Linked DNA regions of Homo sapiens. The protein of the gene in region 2 purifies or fractionates together with the protein of the main gene of each other region. This does not show direct contact. Each region holds a gene or a part of one and is shown on either strand. Other genes may lie near its edges. The genes, in order: KLHL14, ALG3 and ALDH3B1.

Region 1 (6,968 bases), on a different chromosome or scaffold from region 2:
CGTAGCTCCTGATCTTACACAGCTCTTTGCCTGGAAGGCTGCCCAACTGCTACCCTTAACTGCAAGCCTTAGTTCCCCCTATGTCTCCCATAGCCCCTCTAATTGCCCTGTACAACTACTTCATCAGATCTTCAAAAGAGAATAAAATTAAATACTATGTATTTGATAATTGATTTAATTAAATGTGTGACTCACTTATTCTTTAAAAAGGGTGCAGTTATTTTTAACACAAATGGTGCTTCTAATAATGTGTATAAATATTTAGTTATTTGATCTCAGATAAGTTATGTCTTATTATAACACTCTTGTAGTGAAAACATCAGATTCCACTCATATGATTTTTAACTCACAGCATTTTCCAGAAGTATTCCATAATTTTAGCACTGTCCATACTGTATACATTTACATATTGTGAGAAAGCCAAATAACACTTGTAAATCACAGCTTCAGAACAAAAATATTTAGGCATTTACATATCACAAACCTTCAAACGGTTTAATGTAGAGATTTATACATATGTAAGTAGGATATGAGAGACAGTTGAATTAGTACATAAAGTTTTTATTTAAAGTTTTCCCCTTCCAAGCAAGCTTCATTTACACATTCTAATACTGTACAAAATTTACATTCTCTGTGACTTATTTATTCACTTTTCACTTTCTAGTAACTTATGTCTCTCTGAAATACAGAAAGCTTTACTTATAATTCTCATAAATGCTTTTATTTTGGTGAGAAATAAAAAATAAAATGCAGAACAAGTCTAAGGAAAGCAAAGGTTCTTGTACAAATTGTGACTTTTGGAAGAAACAGTGACAGTTGACAACAAAAGGTTCTGAAGCAGACCTCATTCTATTCATGATGTCAGCTGAGATTTTCCCACAGAGTACTGTAACTTTTCTTTCTATATACTCATATGTTTTAAGGAAAAAGAAATGACAGTTGATTGCACTGGATATACATATATTTATATATATATATTTTTACAACGGATCCTTTGGATCTGAACATACAAATAAATACAAAAACAACGAAGATTGCACTTTACTGTAGAAACGGCATCGGATTCCAGTATACCCATTTATCTTGACGTGCTCTGCCATGAAAGCTTATCACTAAGGCATTTTTCATCTGTGGGATTTCCCTAATTACTGTTTTGAATGACACATTTGTTGAAGGATTCAACACCATCTCTGGATGGTTAAAATATATTTTAGGCTTTTATTTACTCCTAAAGTTGTTGTTCAAGCTCTGGAGGGCTTGAAAATCGAATGTGCATTCCTGTCAGTTTTGTCCTTTTGGTTGGCCACATTGAGACTATCTCATGCTATCCTGACCTTCTGCTCCTGAATTCCTCATGCTCCTCAAGACAACTAGCAATTGCTCGCTTAACTGAGTTCAGGCATCTCTGGTGATAACAAACAAAATATGATGAATTGGGGGAATAACGATCGTAAGTCAAGTGTCTAGAGGCACCCGAAGGTGAGGAAGAGGAGAAGTATTCTGTCAGGTGCTATAATTGGCTCCTGTGGCTCTTGTAAGTTCTGTGTTTTAGAAACAGAAAGACAACTGGAATTCTACTTAATGGAAATTATTCTTTCTTTTCATCCCTGAATTCCTGAAAACAATCTCCCATTTTTTTTTATTATGGATTAAATTTGGGTCAGACATATCATCTAACAGAATCTCTAAAATAGTATTGACTGAATTTGTCAATCCTGTCTTTTGAAGTAAATAACATGTGTGTTCACTACTTATATATCACAAAATATGAAAAAGCACAAACCTCCATGAACTGAATAGTGACATAATATATTTTGTTTTAATCTTTCAGATAAAATTGAGGACACAGAAATGACGACTCTGTCTAGCCTAGAACCTATAGGGTAGAAAGCATTTATTACAAGAGCCAACATCTTTCTCTTTTCTGATCCCATGAGGTGCTGTAAGGGCAGAAGGTGTATGAAATGAAGTTGTATAGAAACGAAAATGCCTCTCTTTAATCTTACATGATTTTCAATAACAGTGTTGCCAATGGAGTCTGTGAAGTAGCCAAAGGTTAAGAGTACAGAATCAAGTGGCAATTTCTGTAATGCAGTGTATTTTGGTGGCTCAAATTTGGAATCATTCTTGAACACAATATCCCCGAAATGTCAACATAGATCACATGCAGGTAGACTACAATGCACAATACTGATCTGAGGTCTCTCTGGGGCCAGTCTTCTGTATTTTATCTTTCTCCTTTTGCAAGTTAAGATTCACATGAAGAGTTTTTGTAAAGCTGGGATAAGTTAAAACCAGTCTGAAATGGAAGAGTCTGTCACCACAGGAAGTTTGGTGCGATCTGAGTTATAGACATAGTATCTGTTCAAGAACAGGTCTCTTTCTTTTGTAGTTACTTATAAATCATCAGAAACCAAGGGTGGGTTTTGGCAGTTGTACCATTAGAATGCATTGTTCCTATTATAATAGTGATGTCACCTGCCATTGCTTCCTAGAATGTGATACTGTTCATTCCAGAGTTTCCTGGTGTTATTTGTTGTATGGTACACAAGAGGGCAGAATAACTGTCACACAGGCAGGGCCTGCCAACGGTTCTGCTACATCTCCTTCGAGTTCTGTCCAGGTTCCTTTCTCTGGACAATAGCATATTGTAGATGACTTGTAGGCCCCCTGTAATGACAGAGGAGGGAGCATTTAGAGAAGGAAGCTAGAGAAGTGCAATGGCAATGTTACTGATCATATTTATTAATATATTGAAAAGAAAATATCTGTTCTCCATTCTTGCTAAATAATTCCAAATGAAAGCAATGGATTTTAAACTGTTCTATTCCAAAGAAAAAGCTAAGATTGACAAAATTTCAAAAAAAATTTTTTTGTGTGTGTGACTAATAATAAAAGTTAAATAAATACCTAGAGGATCCTAGATGCTCAACAAATCCTAAATTGGCTGGGCCCAGTGGCTCATACCTGTAATCACAGAGCTTTGGCAGCTAGGGCGAGAGGATCACTTGAGCCCAGGGGTTTGAGACCAGCCTGGGCAACATAGCAAGACCTCATCTTTACACACACACTAAAAAAGATAAAAACAAATTGGGCATGATAGTGCACATCTGTAGTCCCAGCTGCTTGGGAGGCTAGGACAGGAGGATCGTGGTTACAATGAGCTCTGATCATGCCACTGTACTCCAGCCTAGACAACAGAGTAAGATCTTGGCTTAAAGAAAGAAATACATACATAAAAATAATATACCAAAAATAGAAGTTATCCAGCTGGTTTAAGTTAAAAAAGAAAAGAGAACAAATTTACCTTAAACATTCAAATAGTTAAGACAATTATATTTCAGATTGTTGTCTCACTTCTCCATTTTAATTTTGCTACTGTGAAGAATCAGAGCTAGGATTGAAAACCAGTTCAAAGTAAACTGGAAATGAAAGTTTGTCAACTTTCTCATATATTGATTTATTTATTTTCAAGAGGCCACATGAGAAATAAAATGTCCTTAATCTTGTTTTCTTTGTCAACTTTAGAGGCTAGTGCTTGTGTAACCTTTTCCTCCCCAAACCAAGGCAGCTTTGTGTTTATCATAGGAAAAAAACGAAAGACCCAACCAACCTAATAATTATTTTTCTAAAAATGCCCCAATGTCTGCTTCCAAACAAATACATTCTTGCAGCTAACAATTTGTACAAGCAAACAAGTGCACATATGAATATCTAGTTATATATGTCAATACATATTTGCCTATATAACTAATAATGTTTTAAAGCTCCCCAAAACTTTATGTCACAATCTTGTTAGAGGCAAAAGAAATAAAACCAAATAATATTATTAAAACCACCAAATTAATCTTACAAAACTAACACAGGTAATCAGGAAAATATAAAAATGTTCATCATTTTAAAAGTGAATATGTAATCTGCTAGACCCAATGTGTCTCCTGATGTACTGTAATTTGAACTACAAAGCCACCTTCGCAGGTGTTTTTGCTAAGAAAGAAAAAAGAAGTTAACGAAAGAAATAAATAAAGGAAAAAGAAAGAAGCTGAATTTAATTATGCCCTTATCTCTAACTTCCAGTCTCCAGAAAATATGCAGATGGAGGACTATTTCAAATGACTCCACAAGGAAGTCATTAGCCAATTTCAGAATGTAGGGTATTCTGTATAACTGAACCTCTTTTGTCAAGGAGTCAATGGCATGAAACAAAAAGAGTCAGGGTAATGTTCTAGATTGCAAGAGATATATGAGACATAATGATGAAATATAAGAAAGACTTGTTGGGTCCTGATTTGGATATGTCAATTTGAAAAATACATCTTTTTTAAAAGTCAATGGCAAATATTTGAATATAAAAATGGATATAAAGGAATTATTGTTAATTTTTTGGAGTGTGAGTGTATTTACGTAAGTTAATGATTTTTAAAAGGTAAATACTGAAGCATTTAGGGTGAAATGATATGACATCTGGGATCTACTTCATATTGCCTGAGCCAAAGATTTTAAAAGTGGGGATAGATGAAGTGTGGCAAAATGTTGATGGATGTTGAAGCTGAATGATGGGTTAATGAAGTCCCATTCTAATCTCGATTTTTGTGTATGTTTAGAAAATTTCACGATAAAGAGGGAAAATAAGGGGAAAAATCAATGGCAAATCACACATCCTAAATAGATTTCATGAATATTGGAGAATGAATTTCCATTTTTCATGCCTTACCGGTCAGAAACCTTTCAGACTCTCTTACTGAACTGCAGAACATTTGTAAAATCACCTCAGTTTGACTTTCAGTTGGGAAGCCAGAATCACAAGGTCATAGAGACAGGAGAGAAGGGAGACCTACTGCACCTTGTGATGCTGTTGATCAGCTAGCAAGCCAGTTCAACAGCCACCAGGCTGATCCTATTTTACTATCTAAAGCAACTGACTGCTTGCATGTAAGTATGATACTCTTAAAAGGTACATGTGTGGAGGATAACACATTTGGAAGGATACAGAAAACGTAAGCACAAACGAAATAAAGGAGGATGCAGTAAATGTGGACACATACCATACTCCAGCTGTAGCCTCCCACAAGGTAAATGCTGTCATCAAGCACTGCACAGCCAGGGCCACTTCGACCCTCCAAAATGGGAGTTTGGAGTATATTCCACTGGTCACCTTTTGGGTCATAGCATTCCACAAGCATTACATCAAGGTGGGAGAAACCTAAGTGACAGAACAAAGTGGAACAACAAAATGATAAATGCTCAGGGTCCCAATTTAAGGCTAGGGCTTCTTTTAAAAACAAGTCTCAAGCCAAAATAGATAATTATGTTTTTGAAGACACAAATGCATAAATTCACTGAGATTGGGAGAAATGTCAGAAAGACCTAGAAAACCCCAAAGAAACTCTAGTTGTTTTAGATTACTTCAAAGCAAGAATGCCTGAGCAGATGTCATTAGCAAAGGTTGATTATATGTGGATAGATCTTATTAAAATGGTTTATTAAAACCTTATTTAAAAATGTTTAAAATAATAGTTTAAGCAAGCATTGTACAAGGCACTTACAATATGCTAGTTTTCTTTTCTAAGGGCTTTATTTAAATGAACTCATTCAATCCCTTCCATCACTCTATGAGATAGTCCCTGTCCTCACTTTCATTTTATAGATAAGGGAACTGAGAGACAGAGAAAGTCAATTACTTGAGTAAGTCACAAGTCAGTAAGTAGATAGGTTGAGATTTGAATCCAGGAGAGGCTTCAGAACTCAGACTCTTGCAGACTAAATTGTATTGCTTTTTCTCAAATGAATATTTAACTCTCTCAGAATGTTTTAATAGATTAAAAATATGTTGTTCAGCATCTTTTACCTTTTCCACAATTTGACTATGTTTATAAACAACTCTGATGATGTAAATCGTTTCTAGTATTTACCAAGAATCAAGGTTTAGAGTAGAAGGCTGAGTAACTTTCACTGAAGAGCTTCTCCTACAGCTTCTGATAGGGTTCTTGGTGTCTGGGGCACTACCTAGGTCACTGAGAACAACTTAAGTTCCTGGTCTCTACTGGAGCCCTGCCTTTAATTTAGAGGGTGAGAAACACCTAGTGGGAGCTTCGTGCTCACCAAGCAGGTCAAACCCTTAATGTTTTTATCTATTTTTCCCGTAGTTAAATGCAGGCTATGGATATTTGCTAGCTGACAATCTCAGTGTGTATTCTAAAGTAACCAACATACTGGATTCTTTAAAATAATTGAGAAGATGAATAAAAAGGTGGAGAAATTTTTGTTCTTGAAGAGGTAGACAGGTTATTTCGGTTACTAACTTCCTACAGAAAATAAATCCCATAGATGGTGGAACAACAGAACAATGTACTCACTGCAACACCAGAGTATATTCCTTTCCTTTACCATTAATATTATTGATTATAATTTTTGAAGCATATACACTTAGAATGAGCACTTGGGCAAATTCCAGGTTCTGACCTTGGAGGCATCATTTGAAGATATATGTGCCTTCTCTGTGACAATGTTATACATGGGAACTGTAATCCTCACAGAAACCATCAAGGCAAGGATAATTATCCTTCCTTTACAGACATGAGGTTAAGTGTCTTGAGTGAGACCACACAACTAGAAAGTGCATAACTAGAATCAAACCTAGGCTTAGATACAATGTCTATATCCTCTCCTCACCATGATGCCTCCTTGAGCTAACCCAGTTTTGATGTGTGCACACTATTTCTCATTTAGATTGTCATTACCTGAGTCTTTCTGTCCAAACCTAACCTTAAATGTTAGAAGATCCTAGAGCATTTAGACAATATCTTGTGCAAAAGAAATGCAAAGAAATCACATTTTAACATAGAAGGATACAAAGTTAATACAAAACATGTCGACGTAAAGGAATGGTGTGTGGCTTGAAATGAAAGAGCACCGTTGAAAGAGATAAAGAATAAAAAGGTAAGCATCACAGTAGTAAAGAAAATCCG
Region 2 (4,279 bases):
TGAGATGCCTGGGCTCACCCAGAGAATGTCAGATAAAGAGTTAGATTAAGAGGTAGTAAAGCCCTGGGAATTGGCTGAAAGTCTGTGTTTTGATGGTCTGGAGGCATGGGGAGGGTGGCAGACAAGTTCTAGACTCAGAAGTAACCAGATCATCTTGTCTTCTTCCAGACACAGAGATTGACTGGAAGGCCTACATGGCCGAGGTAGAAGGCGTCATCAATGGTACCTATGACTATACCCAACTGCAGGGTGACACCGGACCACTTGTGTGAGTGGGGACAGGAAGTTCAGGGAGGATGTGAGGGGCTGGTTAGGTACTAGTCTGTGTGACCTGACCCAGGCTCACATTTTCTCTCATCTTCCAGGTACCCAGCTGGTTTCGTGTACATCTTTATGGGGTTGTACTATGCCACCAGCCGAGGCACTGACATCCGCATGGCCCAGAACATCTTTGCTGTGCTCTACCTGGCTACCTTGCTGCTTGTCTTCTTGATCTATCACCAGACCTGCAAGGTGAGTCCATGCTACCAGGGCTAGAGGGCCCCAGCCTGGGAGGGCTGGGTGGTGGGGATGGCTCAGGCTTGCTGAGCTGACCTTGTACCTTACTGTGTTTTCCCTTTAGGTACCTCCCTTCGTCTTTTTCTTCATGTGCTGCGCCTCTTACCGTGTCCACTCCATCTTTGTGCTGCGGCTCTTCAATGACCCAGTGGCCATGGTGCTGCTCTTCCTCAGTATCAACCTCCTGCTGGCCCAGCGCTGGGGCTGGGGTTGCTGCTTTTTCAGGTCAACACCTCTTCCTTTCTGGTCCCCTCTCGTTTTCTGCATTTCCATCTCTTCCCAATTTCCTGCAGCAGAGGGAGTAAAGGAGTAGCCAAGACAGCATGGGTCACTCAGGGCTCCACAAAGCGAGTCCAGGATCTATAGAAAGTTTCTGCCCTGCCATCCCCCAACATACACACATGCCCTCTTTCCATCCTGTCTTCCTCCCAGACAGCATTCCTTGTTGGAATTAGTCCTTCACATTCTAAATACTCAGTATATGCTCATTCGCATCTAGTAGGCATAGAGACTATGTATCTGCCTCCTGCCTACTCCAGGCTCTTCCCTCCAACAGTTGTGAGTGTAGGTCCCATCTTGGAGTTTGTTGGCGTGGCGGCGGGGGGGAGGTTGCTGTGGTGATGGTGGGGGGTATGTCTTTGGGTGTTGTGTGCATGGCCCTGGAGCTGATCTCCACCCTTCCTCTCCCCTGCTCACCCCAGCCTGGCAGTCTCTGTGAAGATGAATGTGCTGCTCTTCGCCCCTGGGTTACTGTTTCTTCTCCTCACACAGTTTGGCTTCCGTGGGGCCCTCCCCAAGCTGGGAATCTGTGCTGGCCTTCAGGTACCCCCATCTCACCCTTCCTCTTTCTAATCAAGGAGAAGCCACTTGTCTTGATTGAGGGGCTCTATCCCTGAGACTCCCTCAAAGCCAAGAGACAGGGTTTTGGAGTTGATTCTGAGCTAGGGAGCCACTATCGCTAGGCTGTAGTTTCCATAGCTGTAAAATAGGGTATTAAATTTGATGGTCTCTGAGAGCCTTTTTGCTTTTTTTAATTTTAAGTTTTGAGATGGGCTCTTGCTGGGTTGCCCAGGCTGGTCTCAAACTCCTGGGCTCAAGCAATCCTCCTGCCTTGGCCTCCCAAAGCGCTAGGATTTTGGGCATGAGCCACCCTGCCTGGCTTCTGAGAGCCTTCCTTGCTCTGCCCAGTTATGACTTGGTGAATCCACACCTTAAAGCATTGTTATGACCTGCCTCCTGAGCTTCTTTGGCCCCAGGCACTGGCCTGGGCCGGGGGGTGGGGAACGTGGTTTTCCTGCTATTTCTAGTGGGAATTGGGGAACCTCTGAGGCCTACATCCCCGTCCCACACCCCTCAATGAGTAGCATGAAGGCTGGTCATTGGGAATGAGCCTTGGCAGCTCTGCTGACATCACACCAATCCTCAGGTGGTGCTGGGGCTGCCCTTCCTGCTGGAGAACCCCAGCGGCTACCTGTCCCGCTCCTTTGACCTTGGCCGCCAGTTTCTGTTCCACTGGACAGTGAACTGGCGCTTCCTCCCAGAGGCGCTCTTCCTGCATCGAGCCTTCCACCTGGCCCTGTTGACTGCCCACCTCACCCTGCTCCTGCTGTTTGCCCTCTGCAGGTGGCACAGGTGAGAAAAGGCAGTAGTGCCATGGGCAGAGTTGGGGGAAGGAGTGAAGGGCCTAAGCCTTAGGGGCTGCTTGGGGGAAGTGTCAGTTAAGCTCATGGGGTGAGTCTAGAGTTTGACTCACAAAAGGGGCTTGATAACTGTCTGAATGGCTTTTCTCCAGGACAGGGGAAAGTATCTTGTCGCTGCTGAGGGATCCCTCCAAAAGGAAGGTTCCACCCCAGCCCCTTACACCCAACCATATCCTTTAAATTGTGGGAAGGTAAGTCTTGCCCTCTCTAGGTGCTGACAGAGTCCTGGTCAGGTATCCCTTGACAGCTGGTGACCTGGGCGAGGAAAGGGGACCCCAATCATAGAAGTCCTATTCTGCACCACTGTGCTGAGCACTTCACATATTGAAGGATATTTGATTCTTAATTCTAAATACGAGCTACTCTTATGAGTACTTCTCCCTGGTACTATCATAAGAGATTTACATATGTTCTAATATTGAAAGCTCACAAGAGACCCCGAGACAGGGAGGTACACTTACATTTACTATTCTCATTTTACAGATGGAAAAATTAAGACTTCATGAGGTTAAGTAACTTACCAAGGTCACACAGCCAGTAAGTTAGGGGTTCAAACCCACAAGACCTTATGGCCCTAGGTATTACTCTCTCCATATTCCATATTTGGTTGAGGAGCAGGTCCAGAGAGGTTAATAAACTTGCCCAAAGGCATGCATCAAGGAATGGCAGAGCCAGAGGGCTATGTGACCTAAAAACTATTGCCCCTCTGTTTTGGGATAGTCCCCCCCACACACACTCCTGCCCTTGGCCTTGACCACCGCATACAGATCGTTTCTACCCTCTTCACCTCCAACTTCATTGGCATCTGCTTCAGCCGCTCCCTCCACTACCAGTTCTACGTCTGGTATTTCCACACACTGCCCTACCTCCTGTGGGCCATGCCTGCACGCTGGCTCACACACCTGCTCAGGTACCAGCTGGGACAACCTGGGGGAGTGGGAAGGGATAGGGAGTTCCTGTTGGGGGTTTATGTCTAGGGCATGAGGAGCTGCAGGTCTGCAGGCCTTGCAACTGGATGAAACGTGGAACCTGTTTCTCATCTCCAGGTTGTTGGTGCTGGGGCTCATCGAGCTCTCCTGGAACACATACCCTTCCACATCCTGCAGCTCTGCTGCCCTGCACATATGCCATGCCGTCATCCTGCTGCAGCTCTGGCTGGGCCCGCAGCCTTTCCCCAAGAGCACCCAACACAGCAAGAAAGCCCACTGAAGTCCACCCCTTTCCCTCAGGACCTGAGTCTACCCTCAGGACCTGGGGTTGGTTGGACTCTGCCCTTCCAAATAAACCTTGCTAAGTCCAACTCTGTGCAACCTACATGGAGGTGGGGGCAGCCGATGCCTGGTCCAGGCTGTGAGGGACACGTATGGAGCAGATAAAGAATTCACTCAAGCAGTCCTAAGAGGCACTTTATTGCATAGGATTTGGGGACTGTGGCTCTCTACCCTTCCACTGTGTTGCAGGGAGCTCAGAGGATGGAGGGGAGTGTGAGTGGGGTGGGAGGAGAGGGAGAGAGCACAGGCAGGCACTTTTTGTGGGGGCAAGAGGGCTCTAGGGAGGGAGTAAGAAGCAGTGGGGGACAGGCTGGCACCAGCCTACACTTTCCCAGCACCAAGAGGCCAGCCCTGGGCGGCAGTGACTTGAGTGTGTTGGGTGGGGCGCCAGCCCAAGCAGCAGGGGGCAGCCTTCACACGTTCGCTGGGCTGTAGCACAGCAGGTGTAGCTGCAGGTTTTGGTCCCAGTGGCGCAGTAGCAGGAAGAGCCCTCGGGCTGCGGCCTTGAGGGCGGCCAGGTCAAGGCCGTCAGGCAAGTGCTGGGCCCGCAGCCAGCAATCAGCCTTGGCCGCTGTCAGTTCCCACTCGTCGAAGGCAGCGGCGCATCGGTGCTCCAGCCAGGCGAGTGCTACGGCAGTGGCCCAGGTCCGGCCCCGCAGGTCGGTGCCGCCCAGCCCTTCCGCCCCCTCGGAGGCCTCGGTGTCTGAGCCCCGCCCACTGTCCACCTGGCCTGGCCCCTCAGAGCCCGAG
Region 3 (7,833 bases), on a different chromosome or scaffold from region 2:
CCCGAGCTTCTCAATTTCCCTGAGGGACCCCAAACTTCTGGGGCCTGGTGCAATCTCTTCCTCCCCTTGTTCCTCTGGGCCTGGGGGTTGTGGCGGTTGCTATGGTTGCCCATCCTGGGCTCTTCCATCACCTGTGCTGTACCACCAATTCCCTGCACTCAATGTCTCCTACTCAAAACACCTGGAGAGGGTCGGGCGCTGTGGCTCACGCCTGCAATCCCAGCACTTTGGCTGGCCAAGGAGGATCACTTGAGCTCAGGAGTTCAAGACCAGCCTCAACAAAGTGAGACAAACCCCCCCCCCCAACCCATCTCTACAAAAAATACAAAAACTAGCCTGGTGTGATGGTGGACACCTGTAGCCCCAGCTACTCAGGAGGCTGAGGTGGGAGAATTGCTTGAGCCCAGGAGGATGAGGCTGCAGTGAGCTGAGATTGTGCCACTGCATTCCAGCGTGGGTGACAGAGTGAGACCTCTCAAACAAACAAACAAACAAAAAACAAAAAAAACAAAAAACAGCCCTGGAGGCACTAAACCCTGACTGATACACCTCCTCTCTCCAGAAAGGATTTTTTTTTTTAGGTGGTTTATGGAGCTGCTCTTGGGGAGCCTGGAGACTATCTAAGAGGCTGATAGGGTGGCCCAGATAAACACACCAGGGTGACCTGCGGGACAGAGATCTGAGCAGGGCCAGCACCTCCACCAACCCATCCAGGTTGCAACAGTGCACAGTCACATCCCCAGGAAGGGGTGGCCAGATCCCCCCGTGCTCACTGTTTGCCAATGCTTTTCTCTATAATAAGCCTTTACTTTCAGTTCTCATTATGAAAATAATCGATGTTCCTTGCAGAAAAGCAAGCAGAAGAGAATAAATATTGCTCTCAACTGGAACTCCCTGAAACAACCTCTTGGAATATTGTTGCCCCGCATTGCACTGACACAGGAGCGTGCTGGGCAGCCCACGTGATTCCCTTCACACCACTTCCCTGGCATGGATGTGATTCCACAATATTTTAAACATTAAAGCCAATGGGGATGATGATCACTGAGTCTGGCTCACAGGATGGTGGGAGGTCCCCAGGTTGGGGTGTGCCAAAGGCTCTGCCCAGTGCCTGGCACAGCAAATGCCCAGGTGGCTGCTGCTTTCCACTGAGACTTGAGGCTCCTGAGAGTTGGTGGCAAAGGGCTCACCCAGAGCTGAAGACTCCAGCCCATTCCTGTGCGAGGGCTCCAGGCACCTTGGAAGCACCGTGGGCCGGGGAGCCAGGCCAGGCTGGTTGTGGATCCCCATGAGTCCTTGTCACTGTGTGGCCCAGCTGGAAAGCATGGTCAATAATGTCTGGGAATTGTGAAAATTGTGTGAAGTGTCTGCACACAGTAGGTGCTCAGTAAAGGTTTGTTGAGTGCGTAAATGAACAAGTGACCCGCATTCACCGTTGCCCGTGAGTTCTGACTGTGTCCTGGGCCCTGGGCCCCTACAGCCTCTAACTTTGCCTCTTCAAGGAGCCAGGGTGGGTCCAGCCTTCAAGACTGCCAGGGAGGGGGTGGGAGGCAGGGCCAGGGCCTCAGGGCCAAGGCCTGGGGCAGCCACTTCCTCAGGAGGGCAAGGAGAGGGGCAGGAGGACATTCACATGCTCTGAGCGCCTACTGAGAACCAGGTGCCCTGTCGGTGCCTTCAGGTCGGCTCTCGTTTCACCCTCGCAGTAGCCATGTGAGGCAGGCAGAGTCAGCCCCCATTTTACAGCTGGGGAAACTGAGGCCCAGTGAGGGGACGTTTCTTTTCAAGGTCACTCGTGGGCAGATGAGGCAGTGAGATGCTCTTGGGCAGGTCTGAGGCCCTGTGAGCCAGGCTCAGGGGCGTGTTTCTGAGAAGTGAGGGAATGAATGAATGAATTATGAATGGATGAATGATTCCACCTGATGCCATGCTCATGCCCTGCCCACACTCCTGTCCTAGAGTCTGGAAGGTAGCTCTCAGACCCTTCCAGAGGGGGCCGGGCACTTGGAATGGTCACAGTTCCGGGCCCACGTGCATGGAATAACTTGTTTCAGCCTCACAATCACTTATGTCCCATTTTACAGATGGGAAGGCAGAGGCACGGGGGGTTAAGACACTAACCTAGGTCACACAGGTAAGTGACAGGACCAGGATTTGAGCCCAGACCTCACACTTAACGCCCTCCATGCCAGGTGCTGAGATCCATGCCTGCCGAACCCTCTCATTCACCCACAGATGCCCCCGGGACTGTAGTCAGCCCCATTCTCACATGGGAACACTGAGGCCCAAAGAGGCGAAGCGTCAGCCCAGCAAGGAGGAGGCAGGGCAGGCGGGGCCGCAGCTGTCTGGCCCGGAGCCCTGAGCAACCCCTCCACCCACTCCCCCTGGCTGGCCTGGGCCTTGGCAGACCTCACCCCAGAGCTGGCTCCAAAAGTGAGTCCTCCTGGTGCCCTACCCAGAGGGCTCCCCATTTACCCTGGGCTCCTCAACAAAGATGGGACTCCCAGGCCCTACTGAGCCTCTGGAGCTTTGAGGAGTAGTGAGGGGCACCCAACCCAGAGTGGGGAGGGCCCAGCCCTCCTGGGAGGTGTGTGGCCTCCCTTGGGGGGAGCCTCACTCCCAGGGAAGGCTAGGAGTTCTGTCCCGGGAGGACAGGCCTCTTCGGGGGCCTCCTCCCAGGTTGCTCCTGCATTCATGACAAGTTCGGCCCCTGTGAGTTGGGGGAAATTCTTCAACAGCTCCCTGGCCAGGGAGGGGACCCTCGGGATCCTGAAACACCCCTCCCACCTGCCAGTACCCGCCAAGATGGGTCCCTGATTTGCTGTGTGGCCTTAGACCAGTGGCTGCCCTCTCTGGGCCTCACTCCCAGCTGAGACCTACAGGCTCAGCCCCTGCCCAGCCCTGCCTGGCACCCGCTCAATCTGGCTGAGCTCCAGAGAATGGCAGGGCTGGGCTGTCACATGCTGAGCCACGTGACTGGCAGTGGCTGGGGGCTCCATCCCACACAGAGGACAGGGGCTCTGCAGTCCTTCACCCCCACCCTAACTATCTAATCACGGGCCACCGGTGTGGGCATGGTCCAGAAGACCTCACCGCCCTCCCAGGTAGGCAGGGAGCTGGCGGGTGGGGGGGGCCATGATGAGCACCTCCCAGGTGCCACGTTGGCCCAGAGGCCCCGGGGCCGGGAGCTACGGAGGCCCAGGGCACCAGGGAGATGGTAGCAGCGGCAGGCCCAGGAAGGGGCATAGAGGAGGCTCTTCCTCCACACCTGTCACCCTGTCCCCTGCCTGTCCACACCCACAGCAGCTTGCACATCATCCCCACAGCACGCTGGCTCTGACAGGTGTATCCGGGGCGGGCTGGGGGCAGGCAGGGACAGGCTTAGGCACAGCTGCCTGTGCCGAACTTGAGGAAGATCGGGACTACAGGAACCACCAAGGCGACACGTGGCATCATGACCACGGTCCTAAGCAGAGAGGCAGGCACTCCTCCTGGGAGGCAGAGGGGACATCCGAAACGGGTGCAGCCCCAGCTCTGGAGCAAGAAGCTCTGCCACACACACGCCCCATGTTCACATCCCACCCCCTCTCTGCCCCCACTTCCTCGTTTGTAAAATGTTAGATCTGCAGAAAGACAGGCTCTATGAATGGGGCGGCCCATGGGGTGGTGTGGAGGAACACGGAAGCACAGGGCGCTGGGAGAGGAGCAGGCATGAGGTATGGTCCCTAAGATGGTATTTCTAGACTCCAGCCACCTTTGGGTCTGACCTCTTTGTTTTGCAGAAGGGGAAACTGAGTCTTGGGTAGGGTGTAGCAAGACAAGCCACAGACAAAACACCTCAGACACTGGATTAAAGAAGGAAGAGGTTTATTCAGCTGGGAGCATCAGCAGACTTGCGTCAAGAGCCGAGCTCCCTGAAAAAGACATTCTTGGCCTTTTTAAAGGCTTACAACTTTAAGGGGTCCACGTGAAAGGGTCGTGATAAATCGAGCAAGCTCGGGGAACGTGACCGGGGGCTGCATGCGTCAGCTAACAGAACAGAAAGTTTTGCAGTGCTTTCTCATACAATGTCTGGAATTTACAGATAACACAAGTAGTTTAGGTCAGGGGTTGATATTATTATCACTTTTTTTTAACTACCAGGGCCAGGTGGTGGCGCCAAGGTCTTCTGGCTATTTCTCTTACTTCTGTTTTTTTCTAACTTTTTGCCTTCTCTCTTTCCTCCTGTCTTGTAAACCAGGCAAGGTGGTAGGAGGAGGGCAGCAGGAGTAGTAGTGGTCTTATTCCTTAGGGGAGGCATTGAGGGAAGGCTGGGAGTGGGGGGTCGAGACTTCCTTGCTATTCTGGGCCATAACATTCCACATAATATTATAATAGAATATAATTAATACAATAATAGTTCCCCACCCCACACCGGGATTCCCAGGGCCCACTGCCCCACTCCTCCTCCTCAGGCTGGCCCTCAGCTCAGTGCTCAGCCCTGCTGCACAGCCTCTCCTCCTCCTCCTCAGGCTGCCCCTCAGCTCGGAGCTCAGCCCTGCTGTGTGGCTCTAGCCTGGCGCCCTCTGGGCGTTGACTTCTTCTCTGTGGTCTGGGAGGAGATGTCGAGGCCCCCGAGGGAGGCGGTGGTGAAATCTTGGCTTGCAGCCTCCAGCCCGCCCAGAGCCAGAGTCAGGCACGAGGCTAGGGCAACTCCGCCCCACCCCTCCCCCGGGGACTGGCCCTGCGTTGGACATTTCTTAACAGCAGGGCCACCAGGCAGAGCGGGACAGCCAGGAGGAAGGGCAGCTTGGCAGAGCCTCAGGTAGAGTATCCCGGGGAGGCTGGGGCTGTAGTGGGCCAGCAGTCGGGCCAGAGTCCAGCTCAGCAACTCCGGGTTACAGGCAGCCCAGGCGGGCCTAGCCACCGGCAGCTGCACTCAGAGGCCACTGTGTCCTGGCTGAGCTCATCTGCCTGCCTGCTGGGGGAGAAAGCGGAAGGAGGAGAGGCAGATCTGGGGAGTGGCAGCGAGGTCCCGGGCACCCCCCTGGCCAGCAGGCACCCTTCCGTTGTCCGAGCTGGGTTGCCACCGCCTCCTTTTCCTGGGATTCCCGGACACCCTCCAAGGGAACCAAGGGAACAGCTCTGGGTCCAGCTGCCCCAGGAAGGACTGTGCGCCCCTTCCCCACAGGGGTCAAGTATCCCTTCCAGCAACAGCCGTTTCCTGGGCACCAGCCTGCATGCCCAGTGCTGATGCAGGGATGTGGCCATGAATGACTCTGGGAAAGAATCATTCTTAGCAATGGACTTTGTCAGGGTCCAAGAAAGGAGTGGCCAGCCAGCCCCGCCCCGCCTGCAGGAGGCACTTCTCATCCCGGGAACTGTGCCCCATCAGGGAGCCGAGGCTGTTCAGCCTCTTTGTGACCCGGGGCTGGGTTGGCCCGAGCCACCAATGAGGGGATACGCTGGTCCCTGGCTCCCCAAGGGAGGGGCTGCTGAGCTTTGGGAGGCCTCATGAAAATCCAGCTTAAGGCCATCAAAAGACAAAATGACAACACATTTAGTTATAGATCAAATTGGCTTCTATTCATGATTCGTGAATCCGGACAGCCTCCATTCTACAAAATGGAGTGAGAGCTCCCACCAGGCAGTGGCAGAGCAGGGGGTTCATAAGGCAGAAAGGAGGAAACAGAAAAATAGGAAACACCAAACCGCCTAATACCGGATCGCTGCAGACTGCTTTTTTCTAAGCGGACTGCTTTTTTCTAAGGGGTAAGGCAGAGGGGACCTGATGATGCCGGCTCAGGTGGACTGGAATCTCCTGCTTCCCGGAGAAACTGGTCTGTGGTTTTGGGCTCTGTCTGCTTCCTTAAAGCTTCGGTTTGATGATGTGGCATTTGGCATGAGTGCCTCCATTTTGGTTTGGTCTGGTCTGTTGGGGCCTAGTACAGGAGCTCAGTTCAAAATCACAGCCTCTCATCATGTTTGTTTAATGAAGCTACACTGCAGGAGATCAGAATCGGAGACCCTGCGGTATTGGGCCTGTGGGTCCCCTGAAGTTGGCCTAGTGATCCCCGCCTTCTGGCTGCCCTGATGGGGGTCCCCCAGGCCCTCTACCCACCATGTTCAGTCCCTCTGTCACCACATCCCTGTCCTCAGTTGGGTCTCAGGGTGATGTCCTTGTCTCCCCAACACCCACCTTGGATCAAGGCCCCTTCAGGCCCCTGCCCCAGGGGTCTCCTCCCTGAGCCCTCCTCTGGTACATCCGTCCTCCATGGATACTGAGCACTTCCCGGGGTCCCAGTGCTTGAATTCTCCCGACAGTGGTATGGGTGCCACAGGCAGTGCCCAATTTTACAGATGGGAAACGTGAATACAAAGAGGTCAAGCAACCTGCCCAAGGTCTCCCCACTCACACATGTGGTTGCTGCAGTTTAAACCCAGGTCATTGGGCCCCCAGACCATGCCATGCTGGGAGGATGCTCTTAGAAGGCCCATGGTGTAGATGAGGAAACTGAGGCAGGAAGAATGAGAGAACGGGCAGAGCCTCCGTTTCCCTGGAATCCAACCCACTTGATAGGCCAGGGTGTGAACGAGCAGGGAGTCCCTGCCCAGGGACGGTCCCTGCTGTGAGGTTGGGGGCAGCGGCTCGGCCAGCCATTCACTCCCTGTGATATGTCAGCCCCGTTCCTCCCCACTCTGTTCCCGGAGCCTGTGGGCACCCACAGCGAGCACCCAGGCTGGCATAGTGCCCAGCACATGGGCACCTGAGTATTGTTTTTAGAGGCCCGTGGCCTTGAGAGGAAGTGGCTGGTCCTGCCCTGGCCCCCAGGCCAGAGGAAACAGCCGCTATCTTCATCACCAAATGATGTGGCAACTCCCCCCCACCCCAGAAGCTGCAGGTCTGGGCCAAATGCACCTCAACCTGTGATGGGGGGCCACGCCCCAGAGACCCTTGGGCCCATCAGCCCCTGGACCTCAGTGGCTCAGCCGCAGGAGGCAAGAGGCAGTCTCAGACCCCACAACCTAAGCAGTGTGGGGAGTGGCAGCAATAGTGAGGAGGGAGGCCGAGGAAATGGAATCCAAACAGCAAGAGACCTCCCCTCACCGGTCACCCCTCCCACAGCTGGCCTACCGGAGTCCACCCAGCCTTGGGTCTGCCGTCCAGGCCCCAGCCCAGTGTCCCTTCCCCCAAGGACTTGGCTGCCCATCCCCAGGGGACTGTGAGGGAGGTGGGAGCTGAGGTGGATAGCCTTCTGCTCTTCTGGATTTGGGTTTTCCAATGTGAGGAGCTGGGTGGTATCAGGCAAGCTCTGGCCCTCTCTGAGCCTCAGCCTCCATCTCCTTCAGTGGGGTGAATAGTGGTCCCTCAGTGGGCGGCCGTGGTGGTGAAATGAGCGAGGGCAGGCATGGGGATCACACTCCTTACAACCTCACACTGTGGGATGAGTGCCGCGGGGGTGGGCTTGGGGGACCCCAGCCCAGTGCCTGATTCAGGAGTTCCCTATTCTGTGTGTCCACAATGGCTGCCCAGCACCCTCGGGAGATAACAGGCCCAGGATCCCCCCAATCTCAGGCAGAAGGCGGCCTTGGCTTCTCCGCTTGCCAGGGTCCTGCCCTGGGCACTCCCTGGGGGCCTCAGTCCAGAGTGAGTGACCCGTAGGGGCAATGCCAGGGCTGGTTGCCCTGTGGGAGAGATGTGTCCTGTGGCCCTGGTGAGTTGGTTTCAGCGTTGCTAGGAGGGTTGCTGGAATGTTCCCTGCAGAACTCCATCCCCCACAGAGCTCCCGGCCCACAGTCCACCATTCACGTTACGTGCCTTGCATTTTTGTGGTTTCTGCAGAGATTCTTACAAAG

What was found.
Region 1: the proteins of ALG3 (region 2) and KLHL14 purify together in Homo sapiens (affinity purification with mass spectrometry; 3 studies listed by BioGRID and IntAct, with this or other methods). This does not show direct contact.
Region 3: the proteins of ALG3 (region 2) and ALDH3B1 purify together in Homo sapiens (affinity purification with mass spectrometry; 3 studies listed by BioGRID and IntAct, with this or other methods). This does not show direct contact.

Annotation. Positions count from the first base shown.
Region 1 is NC_000018.10:32,672,128-32,679,095, forward strand, and holds the end of KLHL14 (kelch-like protein 14), read right to left. Parts: intron 5,204-6,968; coding exon 5,046-5,203; intron 2,671-5,045; coding exon 2,530-2,670; 3' UTR 546-2,529; downstream 1-545.
Region 2 is NC_000003.12:184,241,702-184,245,980, reverse strand, and holds the end of ALG3 (dol-P-Man:Man(5)GlcNAc(2)-PP-Dol alpha-1,3-mannosyltransferase), read left to right. Parts: intron 1-168; coding exon 169-268; intron 269-365; coding exon 366-513; intron 514-622; coding exon 623-783; intron 784-1,259; coding exon 1,260-1,380; intron 1,381-1,984; coding exon 1,985-2,190; intron 2,191-2,350; coding exon 2,351-2,427; intron 2,428-3,023; coding exon 3,024-3,168; intron 3,169-3,304; coding exon 3,305-3,467; 3' UTR 3,468-3,680; downstream 3,681-4,279. Other genes in the region: VWA5B2 (von Willebrand factor A domain-containing protein 5B2), read right to left, coding at 3,943-4,279. UniProt on the Homo sapiens protein: Dol-P-Man:Man(5)GlcNAc(2)-PP-Dol alpha-1,3-mannosyltransferase that operates in the biosynthetic pathway of dolichol-linked oligosaccharides, the glycan precursors employed in protein asparagine (N)-glycosylation.
Region 3 is NC_000011.10:68,005,592-68,013,424, forward strand, and holds the start of ALDH3B1 (aldehyde dehydrogenase family 3 member B1), read left to right. Parts: upstream 1-4,735; 5' UTR 4,736-4,801; intron 4,802-7,833. UniProt on the Homo sapiens protein: Oxidizes medium and long chain saturated and unsaturated fatty aldehydes generated in the plasma membrane into non-toxic fatty acids. May have a protective role against the cytotoxicity induced by lipid peroxidation.